Linked DNA regions of Homo sapiens: region 2 is linked to region 1. Evidence: fine-mapped expression QTL. A gene starts in region 1. The other region holds a variant in brackets. All regions are shown on one strand. Distances are from middle to middle.

The links. PIP is the estimated chance that this variant, and not a neighbour inherited with it, causes the effect.
Region 2: its variant is fine-mapped to the expression of ARHGAP25 in monocytes (BLUEPRINT, PIP 0.93).

What each region holds. Positions count from the first base shown.
Region 1 is chr2:68,731,599-68,739,933 of GRCh38, forward strand. It overlaps ARHGAP25 (Rho GTPase activating protein 25), which reads left to right and starts at 3,213. Exons shown (of 11, transcript NM_001007231.3): 1 at 3,213-3,662. The coding sequence starts at 3,602. RefSeq lists an enhancer at 7,978-8,207.
Region 2 is chr2:68,805,798-68,814,132 of GRCh38, forward strand. ARHGAP25 (Rho GTPase activating protein 25) reads left to right here. Exons shown (of 11, transcript NM_001007231.3): 5 at 1,476-1,683; 6 at 7,490-7,622. Among named protein-coding and RNA genes, the nearest start is that of LINC01888, 22 kb to the right of the region's middle. The variant T/C (reference allele first, on the strand shown) is at 3,837.

The DNA of each region.
Region 1 (8,335 bases):
TCGTTTCTCCTCAGCCCCACCCCTTTCATCCTTCTTAGGAGCGACCTGAAGAACTTTCTTCTCTCCGTGCCTCATTCATATTGTTGGTTTTGTCTGGAATCCTTTTTCCAACCCCCTTGCCTCCCTAACTCATTTGTCAAGCCTTACTTTAAAAGACACTTCTTCCAGGAACCCTTCCTTCACTCCCCAAGTCCAGTTAGGCCCCTCGCATATACACCCCCCCTAGCTCCCTACACTTTCCCCAACATAGCTCTCTCACACTGTATTTAATCGTTCACTTAATTGTTCTTCTCCCCCAACAGACTGTAAGAGACAACAGCCGGTGTCAGGGCGGTGAGGTGGGGAAGCAGAAAACACGTCTGCTTGTTCACGAACGTTCTTCCAATGTCCAGCAAAAATTTGGTCCTTAATAAATCCGCTTATCATTCAACAAGCCAACAGATGGAACAATGTTTGCTTGCGCTACTGCAGATGCTAATTCAAACTTTGGGACCAGGCAAGGCATTTGGCTCTTCATTTTATGAAGATCAGAGAGAGGGAGCGCAGTACCCAGTTGACTGACCGAGAGAGAGCTCTGTGGTGGGGGAAGGCTGCTGTGTTGGGCCCTTGTGGGGAGTGTGCTTTCCATCTGATTGCCTTTCCGCATCTGCACAACTAACTTCCCCCATGGGTCACGAGTTTTTCCAAGACTGACAGGAACCTACCCTGAAAAGTAAAGGAAGTTCCCTGCGTGTTTCTTAATGACACCTTCAAAATATTTTCAACATTCCTCAGTTTAAAGGTCCCAGGACTGAAATTTTAGATGGTGTCGAATTCCCCCGTGGAGATGCTGCTGGGCCGGGCCAGACAGCTACCTCTCTCACACCCGCTTAATTAAGTTGGGATACGAAAAAGAGCAGTGGTGTTTGGGTCAGGCAGGCAGTAGTGCAATGTCTCCAAGTAGCTGAGTCAAGTTCAGCGGAATCCAGCTCCCTGGGGAGGCTGGAGGGTAGCTGGGTAGACTGGGTGAGTGTGGTGGATTGGAGTCTTGATCAGCAAACACTCCGGCCCTTCTTCCACCCCTCCGGCCCTTCTCCCTCCCCACTGCTGCTGAGGACTGGGTGTACTTCCGGCCTCACTGACTTTGAGCTTGGCCATGTGACCTGTGTTGGCCAATGGAATGTGAGCAGACAGGGTGTGCGCAGAGGCGTTAAATGCGCTTGCAAGGTTCTTCTCTCTTGTGCTCCTTTCATTCCTGAAGACAGGAGTATACACCAGGTCACCACTGTTCCTTCAGCCTCGTTCTCTGGATATACAGTTTGGATACATTTAGTTTGAGATGGCTACTATAGATCTAAGCAGAGATCCATGTGATTTGGAGTTCAGGGGGTCTGGGCTGGAAATACACATTGGAATCATCTGCAAATATGTGACATTTAAAGCCTTGAGACAGATGAGCTCACCAAGGTGTGAGTGTGGATGGAAAAAGAGTCCAGTCGAGTCTTGGTTTCCTTCAATATTTAGAGGTCAGAGAGATGAGAAGGAATCAGCAAGAAAACAGACACGGAAAAGCCAGAAAGGCAGGCAGACAGCCAGGCCAACCATGGGCCGTGGGAGCCCCATGGACAGAGGGCTCAGAGTTGGAGAGAGCTATCAAATGTGTCCGACACTGCTGATGGGCCCGTGAGATGAAGATGAAGCCCTGACCTGTGAGTTTAGTGACAGGGAAGTCGTAGGTATCCTTGATGAGAATATATTTTGTGGAGTCATAGGGGCAAAAACATCAACCAAGGGATTCGGGAGAGAATAAGAGGAGAGATATTTGCAAGTTAGACAATTCTTACTAAAGCTTGGTTCAGAAATGAAGGAGAGAAATGGGACTCTAGCCCAAGGGGGTGGTGGCATCCAGAGAGATTTTTTATGGGATAAAAAATAGTAAGTTTGAACGCTGACAGGAAGGATCAAAGAGAGAGAAGAAATTGATGATGCAATAGGGATGGGAGAGTGTTAACAGCCAGTTCACCCATTGTACCAAGAATAAGGTCAGGGATACAGCTTGCATGCAGGTAGGTGAGCAGATAGAGTGAGGGAAGCTTGTGGACATTCTCTTTCAGTTACATTGATTTTCTCAATGAAACGGGAACCCAGGTCGTCAGTAAGAGTAAGCAAGTGGCAGGTGAAGAAGAAAGTATGACAGAGTCATCTAGGAGAGTTGGAGAATGAATGGAGCAAGGCGTGCAGCTTAGATGCTGGCTAGCAGTGACTGTTCTGAGCACTTTGTACTGGCTTTTCTACTAAAGCCTCACAACAGCCTATGAAGTAAGCCCTATTATTTGCCCCATCTACAGATAAGAATTGAAGCACAAAGTGGTCAAGAAACTTGTCCATAGTCCCACAGCAGGAAAGCCAGGATTTGACTACCAGTGATCTGTTTCCAGGGCCCAAATGCTTAAGCACTAGGTTAGGCTGACCCAGTTAAACATGAAAGCTTGTCACAGAACTGAACTAAATAGAATAGAATAAAGGTTGAATTAATGTGTGTGGTGCAACCACTCTGTGTCAAGCTCTGCACTAGATTCCTCTGCAAAAACCCTTTGAGTTGTGGTTATTATCAACCCCATTTTACTGATGAGGACATTAAGGTCTGGAAAGATTCAGTTGCTTGTTCAAAAGTTGAAGAGCTAGCAAATGGAAGCCCACACCATGTATACAGCCCACACACCCTGATTCTAAAGCCCACACCCTGTGTACAATGCCAAAGAACCCTTAGGATATGTGAGTGGGTCGACCTAGCTTAAGTTGCTTCATTAAGCCAAATACATCAAAACCCTCCCTACATCAGGCTGAGATCACTTGCAAACTTTATCCTGAGCACCTGGAGAGCTTGCGACATGGTCCTTACAGCAGGAAGAATTTAAAAGAAGATAACTTTGGGGGAATGCTTGTTGTTTTTCTGACCATTTTTGGATGCTTGATCCGTTAGGTGAGGAAGAGGAGAGCTTAGAGTTGAAGTAGATGATGGGAGTTTCGACATTTTCTTCTAATTAAAACTGTAATCTTTTATAACAGAAGCAACCATTCTGGTTTTTCAAGCATTTCCAAAAACCATTTTCTCAAGAAAGAGTGCTCATAATGTATCATCTTCACTGAACAGCCACCCACTTCCTCAAATGCAAGGAAGCAGACAGTTAAAAAAGAAACACACACACACACACACAAAACCAAGAGGCAGCAGTTGTTTATCACGACCTCAACTCAGTAAGGCCTGAGATTCTTTCGAAAAGGAGCTTTGCTTCCCATGACGCAGAGGGAAGTGTCAACTGGGATATTTCTGGTAAAACTGAAAGCAAGAAAAGCAGGGTGCTAGCCCCTGTGGGACTGAGGGTGGAGGCTGGGGGAGTTTGGGTGCCATCCTCCAGTGACAGATGGATGGACCTTTCATCTAAGAGAAAGGAGGAGACACGTTGGCAAATCAGCCTCAAGCCTAAGATTGCTTGTGAAGCAATCATAAGGAGGAACAAAAACAGACACAAAAACAGAGGGAAAGAGTGAAAAGACAAGAAGGGCGCAAACTGTGACAGACTCACCGCTTCACTAACTACTCACTTAAACTGGAAGCAAAATGTCCCTAAAATTGCCAAGGAACTGGGATTTCAACCTGAAAGTGGAGGCTGCGAAAATAGGTATGGTTGGTGTCTTTTCGTTGCCTCTGTGATTCTTACGTATACTCGAGCACCATTTGCATGTTGGTCTGCAGGGAGCATAGTCTACTTAAAAATGGATCTCGCAGCAAATCTGAGTTTGAGGGACCATTTGCATTTAAGTTGGCATGCCAGGTCCAAGTTCTAAAATGCTGGGAGGGGGTTCTCTTTCATTTGGACAAAACAGTGGGATGGCACTCCTTGGTGTGCAGGATCTGGGGTACTTCGGATGATTTAAGGCTACAGACTACACACAAAACTGTGAGTTTTTAGCATATTCCATTTCCTTCCTGTTTGGAAACTCATCCATATTTTGAATGGTTCTGAACAGGAGCACAAAGACTAGAGTCTTTTGAAGTGCTCAATCTGTAAGTAAATTCAATGGGTGTTCTGTTTTGTGAGCCCAGGAGTCAAGGTGTATTAAAAGGTAGTAGCAAAAGGTAGACAACAAAAACAAGACAGGAACATAAAAACGTACTAAAGTATAATAAAGACCTTACTTAATAAAAATATAATTAAAGGAACAGAATGGGAGGGAATTCTTAGATGAGTTGGAAAAGAGATGTATTTTTTATTATTTTAAGGGAGACTGGCATATTTTCTGAGATAGTCTGGCCTTTAATCCATACCCTGTCCTTCTAATGATGATAGTGATACATTAAGTTTAATCTATATATTCGTTATGAAGTTCTTTACATAGATTTCTTCTATTGCTAAATTGGTCACAGTAATTCACATCAGAGCAATCGGGCTGAAAACTATTGCCTACATTTATGTATCTCACCCATACATGAGATAACTTCCTTGATATTAGATATAGATAAGTATTAAGGTGTTTCTAACAGCTTGGAGGAATTTTGCTTGGAAAAAGGTTTAGATTTGAACCTCTAATGGGGTTAAGTGTGCTACTAAAATAAGTGCTCCATTGAAAAGTCACAAGCGGAGCATTAATGATGTAGGTCTGAGAAAGGGTTTGAAAGAAAACAGAGTAATCAGAGAAGCCATTTATCTTGATAACTAGGGGAGATTAGCGTTCCCTAATCAAGCTGTGAATGATTGTATGCTGAGGTCAGTTCAGAGAAAAGGTAATGTTCATACCTCTTACAAAAGCAAGAGATTTTCCTCCTAACTATCATTGATACAAATGTACTTGGCTAATGCTCAATCTATGTCATACAAATTATATGGTTCTGTTCCTTTGAAAGTGTCCTGCTTCTACATAAATAAGGTCATTCTGCCTTCTCTCCACCTATGTTTGAACACAGGTTATTAGGGTCTTACTCTCCTTTGGTTTAAAAAACAAGAAAGTTGAGACAATTAATAGTTAAATGATTTTTTTCACAGATATAGGAAATTACCACACTAGAGCTCAAGACTGCATATACTCAGGTCTGGGATTTGATTGAGTGAATTTCATGATTTTTACCAATGTTTCTTAAAGCATGGTCCCATAGATAACCTATATCAGACTCACATCAAGTGCTGGCTAAAAATGCAGATTTCTGGGCACCATCCTTACAAAATCAGAATCTCTGGAGGAAGGCCCAGGATCCTGCATTTTGACAAGCACCCCCCACTTTCATCCTCACCTGAGGAAGAATTCCTGCTGTAGGTACTGTGGTCTATGTTCACTAGCCCCAGCAGACAGTTTTCACCCATTTAGTATAGGGCACAGTGCTTGTTCTTAACTGGGCACACAATAAATATTTGTTGGCTGAATGAATGCTTCAGCCAACAAAAACAAGCAGATGATGTTATTTAGTATTACTTAATGAAAAAATAATAATAAGGACATAATGAAATACAGAGGAGCCCTTGTCATTATCCATGCTATCTATAAGTTTGTCACCCTGAAGGACTGGACTACAGTAGGATGCATTTATAAGTGTCACATGAACTAGAATTCAGATCATAATCTGAGTCCTCTGATGGGGGAGAGCCCTTGACTCAGTCACAGGACTTCCAGTCCCCTCTCCAGCATCCTGTGTCCAGGTGTAACTGTAGGAACTGGCTTACCAATATATCAAAGAAACTTACCTCTATTGGGAAGACCTGTGGAACTGGGAGTTATGTCAGGAAAGCTGACAATCTGTGGTTTTAACGTTTTCTCAACCTAGATACCATTGACATTTGGGGTTGGATAGTTTTTTGTTGTGGGGCCTGTCCTGTGAATTATAGGATGTTTAGCAGAATCCTTGGCCTCTACCTTCTAGGTGATGGTAACACCCCCCTACCACTACCAGTTGTGACAAATAAAACTGTCTTTACATATAGCCAAGTGTTCCTTGGGGATGGGGGTGAGGGTAATATCTTCTCTAATTGAGAACTCCTGGAGTAGATGATCACCAAAAGGGTGGAATATAAGGTCATTTGGGACTAGAACCCAAATATTAACTCATGATTCACTCTGTAGCTCAATTTTTTGGAGGCTTTTATTGAGATCTGTCCTCAGGGAGCCAGGCCATAGCTTAGGAAGGACACTAGAATGGGCCCTTGGTGAAATAGCAAGACACTGACCCAGAATGTGACCCAGGAAAGGGGCCCTAGCTTTTTTTGATGAGCTATGCTTCCAGTTTCCCCAGAATCTTGTGAGCTGGAGTGAAAGTGAAAGTCTCTGAGAGCGAGGGGAGGGACTCTCCACTGTACTTCCATCTCAGAGCTGAAGAGGGTCTTGCTGGATGGCAGACTCACCTGAGTCCACTACCATGAGTCTGACAGATTTTCATGCAGTGATGAAGAAAAGTCACAGAACTTCCTGAATCTGACCTATTGATCCTGGCAGGAATAGGGGTTGGAAGAAAAAGGAAAATGCAGAACAAACAGTCTTGACTTGAGGTGGAGCCAAGAGCACACACTTCTTCCTGTGATCCTTTATCATTTTCAATTTTAGAATCATGACAGCCTTTCACTGCCTTCACGCAGTTACTCAAATATTTTGCCTTTTTAACTGAATTGTCATCACTGGAGGACAGGTCCAGACTTTCTGGACCTCCAGCCCCAGGTTACAGGGCTTTCTTGAAAGAGTTACATGGCTTCCCAATGACCAGGCCAGTCTACTTGAGCACATTTTGTACCTTATTTGAACACTGAAATGCTGGTTCCCCAGTTTCAGGAGAATCCTGAAACTATATAGCCCATGGTGAACTGATTTGTGTTTGTTTGATGTTCAGCTTTCTGAACATCAGAAAGTGGTGAGTGCTTTCTTTACAATTCATTACCAAACTTACTATATGCTAACCAGACCAGCCTGGGTTATGGACTGAATGTGGTCTGTTTGCTGTGCCCAAAGTATTTGCTTTCCATGAGTAGCCTCCGGTCCCTGATAGATAAAGGTCCCCGATAGATAAAGGTCCCCACACATGCAAGTAGAGTCACTGCTAAAAATACAAAAAATTAGCTGGGCATGGTGGCGGGCACCTGTAATCCCAGCTACTTGGGAGGCTGAGGCAGGATAATTGCTTGAATCCGGGAGGCGGAGGTTGTAGTGAGCCACGATCATGCCACTGCACTCCAGCTTGGGCGACAGAGCAAGACTCTGTCTCAAGAAAAAAAAAAAAAAAAGAATATGAACATGGCCTTCTGTAGACAGTGAACAGCTACACAAGGGAGCTGTTCCTTCCAGGGCCCACTCTATTTTTATGCAGAGGTTACATTGCCATTGGTTATTTAAGTAAAAATGTCTGTCCGTAATGTTGCTGTTGACTTAACATTTAGGCATAAATTAAATTCTCTCCACGAAGTGCATGCTTCCTGTTGCCCAGGCCAACAGCCTTCTGGCCATTTGAGGAAAAAGGACTGATGTCACCTCTGGGCCTTCTGCAGCAGCAGCAGAGTGGGGACCAACCTAAGTGGTGATGGGAAAACAGGACCTGGTTTTATATCCACTCATGCACAAAATTCCCCCTGTACATGCCAGATGAGGTCAGCTTAGATTCTGTACTTTGTCTGAGACTGTGCACTTGGATTGGCAGAGGCTAGCTTGATGGTTCTTATTGCCTATGTGTCTGAAACTAGGCCAGGGTTAAGATGCCCAATGGCCCTGGCGTGGGTATACATCACTATAAGTCACTTCATTAATGGTAGTGCTGCCATCTCCCTGTCTCTCACCTCACAGTTATGAAGCATCTTCATGTAGCATCCAATGGGAGAACTCTGTGGAGACTCCACCAGCTGGAATGTGATCCTTTTGAGTAAGGCCCACTATGGGGGTGTTGGAAAGATGCTGGGACCAATTGAGAGAAGTAAGTTGATGAAAATGGTCCTATCACACACAAGGCAGCTTGAGGAAAGAATCTGGCATGAAGGTGCACCCCAGTCGAGTGGTCTGAACTTGTGTTAAGATACAAGACATGGGAGGGAGTGAAGAGCAGAAGCAAAGTCCCACTGGTGGCCACAGCAATTGAGACCAAATAGTACCGGAAGAGCATGACGGAGAGCCACAGCGAGGCACAGGCAGATTGTGGGGATTCTGTCACAGAGGATGGCATGGAAATTTTGTAGAGTCCCCAGACAGGAACTGAGATACAAAAGTTACAAAGAGAGAAAATAATTGACATTTTTTGTGTTATGCTTTACTCATCATCCTTTTTCTCTTTGAAAGCTTGTTTAAAAACCAAAAGTCACTTTGCAAAGAAAAAAAAAATGATACCCATAGG
Region 2 (8,335 bases), 74 kb after region 1:
CATGGGGAGAGTCAAGTGACTTTGCAAACGGATGTCCTAGGGATTGAAGTGCTGGGTGCAGCAGAGCCCTGATTATGGCAGAGGGAAAGTCACGCAGGACAGGACAGAAGCCACGGCCTGTCTTCTGAACCTCCAGGGTATGGAAGCCTGGTGGGAGAATGGATAGGCAGTGGTTGTCCTGATTTGTAAATTTGTCTTCTCACACTGCCGGTGCGGGGAAACTGTGGAGCAAAGTTTCTCCACGCAGACAGAGCTGGGGTGGAGCTGGCCCACACTTGCTTTGCTGGAGGCAGGGTAATTTGGGAAAATATTTTTGGAAAGCAATTTGCATGCCATCAAGTTATAAAAATGTTCAAACCTCTTGACCCAGTAATTCTACACTTGGGAATTTGTCCTAAGGAAATAGTTCAAAAGAATGAAACGCTTTTGTTCATGCATCCAAATGTTAATTAATTAGAAATTATGCATTGTACTGCATACATTCCAGGATCTCTGCCAGGTGAATGAACGTGTTTGCTGTGGCAATGTTTATAATTAGGACATAGTAAACAACCTAAATTATTTTAAATGCCACAGTGGTTTAGTGAGATGAAACATCTATGTGATAGACTACAGTAGTCCCTCTTTATCCTTGGGGGGATACATTTCAAGACCGCAGTGGATGCCTGAGATCTCAGGTAGTACTGAACCCTATACACATTATGTCTTTTCAGTCTTATAACTGAGACAACTACTAAGTATAACTGAGACAACTACTACGCGACTCCTGGGCAAGTAGTGTATATAACGTGGATACACTGGACAAAGGGATGACTCACATCTTAGGCTGGACCGAGCGGGACCGCGAGAGATTTCATCATGCTACTCAGAATGACATGCAATTTAAAACTTATGAACTGTTTGTTTCTGGAATTTTGCATTTAATATTTTCAGACTGCAGTTGACCGTGGATAAGGGAGGATGCCATACTGTGTTATGCTTTACTACTCTGTGACGCCAGTGGAACTCAAAACGGCCTGCTTGCTGCCGTGGTTAAGGCATATTGTTGGGAGTTCACTGCCTAGGCCTGAATCCCAACTGTGTCATGCTCTGAGCTGCCTGACTTTGGCAAGTGTCTAAGGCTCAGTGTCTTTAACAGTAAGGTGCGTGTGACATTAATACCATCTCATGGGGTTGCTGTCAAGGTTAAAGGACAAAAAGTGTGCAATTCCTAGCAAAAGAATTCAGTAAAAGCCAACCATTATTTTAAATATGTAAGAAATGTGGGTCAATATAAAAAGACTGATAAAGACTGCCTCAAATTTACAGGCCCCTATTTATAGCTTCAGGAAATATTCTGAGTGATTTATCTCCCATATTTTGTCTAGTATCATTGCAATAAAACCTGTGAAGACACAGGTGACACAGAAAGTCAAGAAATAGTTCATCCAAGGAAGCACAGAATGACGGGCAGGTTCTGTTTGCTCTCTCCTCAGCAGTGTTTGGCCAGCGCTTGGATGAGACTGTGGCCTATGAACAGAAATTCGGCCCCCATCTGGTGCCCATCCTGGTGGAGAAATGTGCAGAGTTCATCCTGGAGCACGGCCGGAATGAAGAGGGCATCTTCCGTCTGCCTGGGCAGGACAACCTGGTGAAGCAGCTGAGAGACGCTTTTGATGCTGGGGAGCGGCCCTCCTTTGACAGGTACATTGCCCCACTGCAGTGTCCCACCTCTGCCCTCCCCTCTGCTTGGCTTGGCTGGGAGGGCCTCTCCATTCCAGTTGAGCTATGGGACTTGCATAGAGACTTCTAAGAGCCCTGGCTTACAACAGAAAGAGCCTTTGTTTCGCCCATGATTGGGAATTTGGGAGACGGGAGCACAGTTAGGAGAGTGTGCAGATAGTTTATGTGACAGATGATGTGAACCAGAACTGGAACCCTGCTGGGCAGATTCAGGTGATGTTTAAGGCACAGGAGAAGGTGATGTGCAGAGGAGGGGAGAAAGATGGGACGTTGCCTGAGGCTCACCCTTCAGGACAGATGAGGAACATGGAAGAGCTGAGCTGTACAAACACTCAGTGTAGTGGAGAATGCACCAGATCTATATCCAAGGGCACCAGCGGCTTTCGTTAGCATTCCAGAAGTGGCTAGAACCAGGACTTCTTGTTAGTTTCCTGGATCACAGTACTACGTGATTCTGACTCAGTTCTGAGCCCTTTTGCAGGAGCACATCCTGATATCTTGGCCGCCTGGCATTCCTAAGTGTGGAGGTCTCCCAGCCCTGTTTGGGGCATATCAGGCATAGTGACATTTCCTCCCACCACCCCCTTCCTCCCCACCTTCTCCAGCCACTCAGCTGAGGTTTCCTTCTCTGCCACACTCAGCTAGTAAAATCCCCACCCGATGTTGTGCAATCTCCACCCCAGTTGCCTGCGTGAACTTGTCCTGCTGGCATAAGATTGACTGCTCTTTCCAAATTAGCAGCCCATAAACCAAGGTTTAATAAGATGGGCCTGAACTCTACCCAGTTTCCAAAAATGAAAGTTGCTAAGCTTATTTTGGACAATGGGGTTGGGTTGATTCTGAGAAAATTGTGAAGACCTAAGTGTCATCTTGTGTAGAAGCTCCCTCACCCCTCACTCTAATCACCAACGCCGCCCATTTTTCCTCCAAAGCTTCTCTGAGGTCTATATGTTTCTCTCCATGCTTATGGCCACAGTTGTAGTTTGGACAACCATAGGGGTGTCTTTCTTGCCCTTAATAAGTTAATTTCCCATGGGTGCTATATTTTAGCACCCTAGGAAGCAAGAGATGGGGTTCTTATTGGAACAATAGCCCGTTATTGGCATCAAACACAGGGACCTTTCAGCAGCACCATAAACTGCACCTTGTTATCAGGCACTTGTTCCATTATGCTCACCACCTTTATATTCAGTTTCTTTTTATGTTTTCAGTTAACCTTGGCCTGAAGAAAGATACAGGTGGGTTGTTGCTAGAGCAATGCCATATAGTGTGCCAAAAGGAATAGAGGTGATTGCTGGGATATGCCAAATAACTGCCTTAGGCTCTAGCCTATGCACTATGGAGTTGGCATGGGTGGTGGTGTGGGAATCTTTGATTATTTTGAAATATTTGAGGCTGGAAGAAGGAAAATTACCTTACCTTGCGACATCTCCACCCCTAGAAGTGAGGGGTAGGGTTTTTACACATCCAGAAATAGGAAAGGTCATCGGGGGCTTTTCAGGGGCTTCGCAGGGGCAACTCTTAGGTCCACATAACCCTTGAGAGGACAAGTCTGATTTGGGAGGTATGACTGACTCTTATTTGATTCTTATTATTTAGTTACATTTGGGCATATTTAGGAGAGACCAGGTCTTCTCTCTCCTATTCCACTCATGATTCTGAAAACCCTCTTTTCCCCTTTTTCTGCCCTCTCTCCACCCCCTTTTATACTCCCCTACTTCTCATTCCATGGTGTGTTTTGGTGTTGAGGGCTGTGCCCCGCAATGGGCAGAGCATAGAATGCCGGATGCATAGGGTAGGGAAAGGAGGGGAGGGGCTTACAGGGATCAGGCTGACTTTGGGATCATAGAATTGACAAAACCAATAACTCAAGACAGGTCAACAAAACTGGCAAATTAACTCTGAAGTGAAAGTGACCAGTGTTAGATGATTTCCTGAGAGTGATTCTGGCCTGGGAGTGGGAGAGGAAGAGACCAGCCTTGAGACAGTGTTAACCTGAATTGTGTGTGGGAGTTCTGAAGAGGGGCAGTGTGAAAGGGGGTGGAAAGAGGGCAGGAAAGGGGGAAAGGGAGGGTTTTCAGAGTCAAGAGCAGACCAGGAGTGAGAAGCTATGG[T/C]TGTAGCTTTTTCTGCCTCCTATAAAAGGAATTCTAGGAGTCAGTGGGTGGAAGAAGGGGTATTTGGGAGAGCAAGGAGCTCCCTCTTGCTGTCCCCAACTTCACGGCTGTGGGAACTCACCCAGATCCTCTGCATTGGTTATGTGCTGGATTCCACCCCAAGATGCCCCCATTACCTCACTAGAATGAAGGTGAGCAAAGTTGCTGTTTGGTGAGACTAGTGCAGGTCTTTCTGGTCTCCTTAGACACAAAAATGTGAACTTTAAAATCTCCTTGCCAAGTTTCTACCAGGATGGACACTGCCTGGCTACAAAGCTAACACACTTCTCACCCCTATGTGTCTGTGAGAAATGCACTTACAGACATGCCACATTACAAGCATCAATGCCCCCAGGGAAGGGCTGGCAGAACCATCTGAGTCTTGGGTAATCCCTAGTGCATCAGCCGTTGAACCCAGAAGCCACCTGGCTCCTGACTTACTCTTAGCCCTTGATTAAAAAAAAAAAAAAAAAAAGAATCATTTAAGGGTGCTCTATTGGGTTAGAGGAACAGCAAACTCAGAAAAAATAATGCTACAAATTTAGACCATAAAATAGACATCTGAGTTAGCCCTAGTACAATGGGGTGCTCACATTAAAATAAAAATTTATAGAAATAATTGTTTAAGTTCCATGGTGTTAAGTGCTAAAAAGGAAACTCAACACTATGAAAACTTAGAACAGGGGCTTTTCACATGGTCTTGTGTATTTAGGGAGGTCCCCAAGAAAATGACATTTAAGCTGAGACCCAATAAACAAGAATGAGAGTTAGCAAGGCCCAGCAGTGGGCATGGCTTGTCAGGATTATTTTTGGTGAAATGAACTGGGAAGCTTTCTGTAAGTTTCAGTGTTGTAAGATGATTTATATAGCTAATTTTGCTCTTTTATTATAACTTTGAAGTATCCATGGTGTAGCTGTATTTATAATCCCTTTCTCTTTTCTAATGATGGATGCTTTTGCTGTCTAAATTTCTCCTGATTAAACTGTCTAGGTGTCTTTTTTATTGTTGTTGTTTCTCTTCAAAAGTTCAAAAGATCCAATTTCTTTTCTTTTCTTCTCTTTTTTTTTTTTTTTTTTTTTGAGACCAAGGCTAGAGTGCAGTGGTTTCACCCAGGCTAGAGTTCAGTGGTGTGATCTTGGCTCACTGCAACCTCTGCCTCCTGGATTCAAGTTATTCTCCTGCCTCAGCCTCCTGAGTAGCTGGGATTAAAGGCACCTGCCACCACGCCCAGCCAATTTTTGTATTTTTAGTAGAGATGGGGTTTTGTCCTGTTGGCTAGGCTGGTCTCGAACTCCTGACCTCAAGTTCTCCACCCGCCTTGGCCTCCCGAAGTGCTGGGACTACAGACATAAGCCACTGTTCCCAGCCAGGATCCAGTTTCTTGAATTATCCTTTACACTGTTTCTTCCCTTTCAAACTCTGTTTTCTTCACTCATTCCATTGGTGTGTTTTGGTGTTGAGGACTGTGCCCTAGAGTGGGCAGAGTATAGAATGCTGGAGGCATAGGGTAGTGAAAGGAGGGGAGAGGCTTACAAGGATCAGTGTGACTTTAGGATAATAGAATTGAAGGGATTTGGAAGACTGATTGGATGGGGGTGAAGGAGAGGTCCCAATCAAACAGGAGTCCCAGGATGCTGATAGAGACAAATGGGTGGATTGCAGTGTAGGGACTTTAGGAAGATGCAACTTTTGGACTTTGGGAGAATTCTGCTCCTGCAAATTGTCAGCTGACTGTCTTTCTGCCACTTTCTCGGGAACTTCTCATAACATATTTTGACAAAAGTACTTTTTCTAGCCTGGCTTTGCCTTGGGTATTTTTGGGCAGTGACTCAGCAGGGAAGGATTTTCCAGAATCCCCATGTTAAATGAATGGTTCCTACCCCAGATTTCCTGAGGGCAGCCATGGAGCATAGAGTGGGCTCTGTGCCAGCCCGTGTTCTCCTATTGAGGTAGAGTTCACAGGCTGCAAAGGGGAAGCCTTTTCAGAGACAGCTACAACAACTGGCTGTCAAAACCAAAGTAAAATGCACACAAAGCACCAAGACAGAGCTTTACAATCAAGCCCCAGTATTCTTGCTTCTGTTGCCTCACATGCCTCCCTTCTCCTCCTCTTGTCCAGATCCACCCCTCCCTTCCCTCCTAGGACCAGGAGACATGTTCTCCAGCCTATTCTATATTTCTCATCACTGAAATCAAGGAGATTCCAAGGTTATTCTGGACCTCTTGCCACATCACAGCTTTTCACGATGCTACCAGGGCTGCTACCTAAGAATGCCAGGTTTTATCAATATGAAATAAACAAACATTTCTTCAATAATCAGCTTCAGGAATATGGTAGTGAATCTTATTTTCCCTTGTAGTGTTGCAGAATCAATGCAATCGCCTTGTAAGCCAGGGGTCAACAAACTTTTCTTAATGGGCCACATATTAAATATTTAGGCTTTGCAGGCCAGATGGTCTTTATTGCAACTATAATACTCTGCTCAGTACATAAATGAACAAGTGTGGTGGTGTTCTTCTATAATTTTACTTACAGATGCTGACATCTGAATTTCCTGTAATTTTTACATCACGACACACTCTTCTTCTTGTGAGTGTTTTTTCCCCCAGCTATTTAAAAATGTAAAAATAATTCTTAGCTCCCAGGCTGTACAAATAGAGGCAGTGGGACAGATTTGGCTCCTGGCCCGTGGCTTGCCAAGCCCTCCTGTAAATGGAGAAGCTGAACTGAACAGCCGTGCCTCTTTCAGTCAATCAGGCCCACGGGGAGGCGTCCTCTCCTCATGCTCCAGGCTGACACACATGCTGCCTGCCTCATGCCCTAACTCCTCACCGCCTTTCAGAGTTCATCTGAGGTACTCTTTCATCTGACAAGTCACCTATGTGTTCCCATCTCTGCCTTGGGTGTTCTTTTTCCATACTTCCATAGGATCCTGGGTCCTGGGCTTCCCATATCATGGCATTAGCCGCACAGTATTGTAAGGACATTTTAATACTTGAGTCCCCAGAGTTCTGTGGCTCGATGGGGCCAGGGCTCCATCCCTGGATTGGATGGCTACTGATGTCCCTTGGATTGGCTACTGAAATCCCAGTGCTTGACAAGTATCTTGCAGTATCTTGCACCTAATAGGTTTTCTTGATGCTTATTGATTGAGTGAATTATTGAGTAAATACGTGAGTGAACCTCAGAACTATTTTAAGCACTCTGGAAGATTAAAGAGAAGAATGGACCAAGGATATAAAGGAGTTAACACAAGCAATATTAGAGACTAATTAGACAATGCTAATTGTGAGGCACTAAATGACTTGAAGAAAGAAGAAAGCAATAAAGACGAAAATCATTAAGGAACGTTTAGTAAAAATGTAGACCTTGAACTTACCTTTGAGGTAGTTGGGTGGAAGAGACAGAGGAACATTTATTCAAGAATGTTGTTCCAGAAGGGCGAATTAACAAAAATGTTTTGGTCTGATTCTTCTTTATCAGACTACTCCTCTGCAAAATTTCCCTTTGTAATTTATGGTTCTATTCACTGAATCATCAGAATGGAAGAGAGGAACATCCTAAAGTTTTTCTTTCAAAGAGTTTCACAGAGCGTTGCTTATTTTCTTCCAGAGACACAGATGTGCACACTGTGGCTTCCCTGTTAAAGCTCTACCTCCGAGACCTCCCAGAGCCCGTGGTTCCCTGGAGCCAGTACGAAGGGTTCCTGCTCTGTGGGCAGCTCACGAATGCGGATGAGGCAAAGGTTTGCATCTTAGAGTTAGTTGTCCTGCCTTAGAAGAAAGTGATTGGTTTTCTGGACACTAATCCAGTAGGCAACAGTGGGTCAAGGGGCCTGTACTTTTTGGTAAGATAGTCAAATGCAACTTCCTCAGCAACAAAAGGTATATGAACTCAATCATAATGACTGGCAAACCACAGCCTTCATGAGATGCAATAATCCAATAAAGAATTGGACCATAATCAAATACTGCTAGATCACATTAAAAGTAGTGAGAAAAGGAGGATACATCGGAGGACGGTTTCAAGCATGATGGCCTTGCTGAGACTTGCTGGGACACAAGGACAGGCTGGAAGGCAGGTGTGAGGTCACATAGCTCAAGCTCTACAGCAGCTGTGAGTGTCAGGCGTGGTCATCCAAGGAATGCATGTGCCAGGGAGAAGAAGGACAGGGAGGGTTTTTTGATTGTTTTTCTTTTCAGCCACAGCTGCCTGTAGGGTCTGTAACCACCATCTGCAATATGCTTGTGAGAGTGCACAAGTTCACTAACAAGATTTTTGATCCTGTATAAATTTATTTCTAGAGAGGCCTTATAGTCAACAATGACCACACTGTAGTCATGTTATTATAATCAACCAACCAACCAAACAACCAAAGAAACTGATGAAACCCAACCAACAACAATAAACCTTGATGATTTTTAAACAAGATTTTCAAATCCAAGTGATCCATGAAGA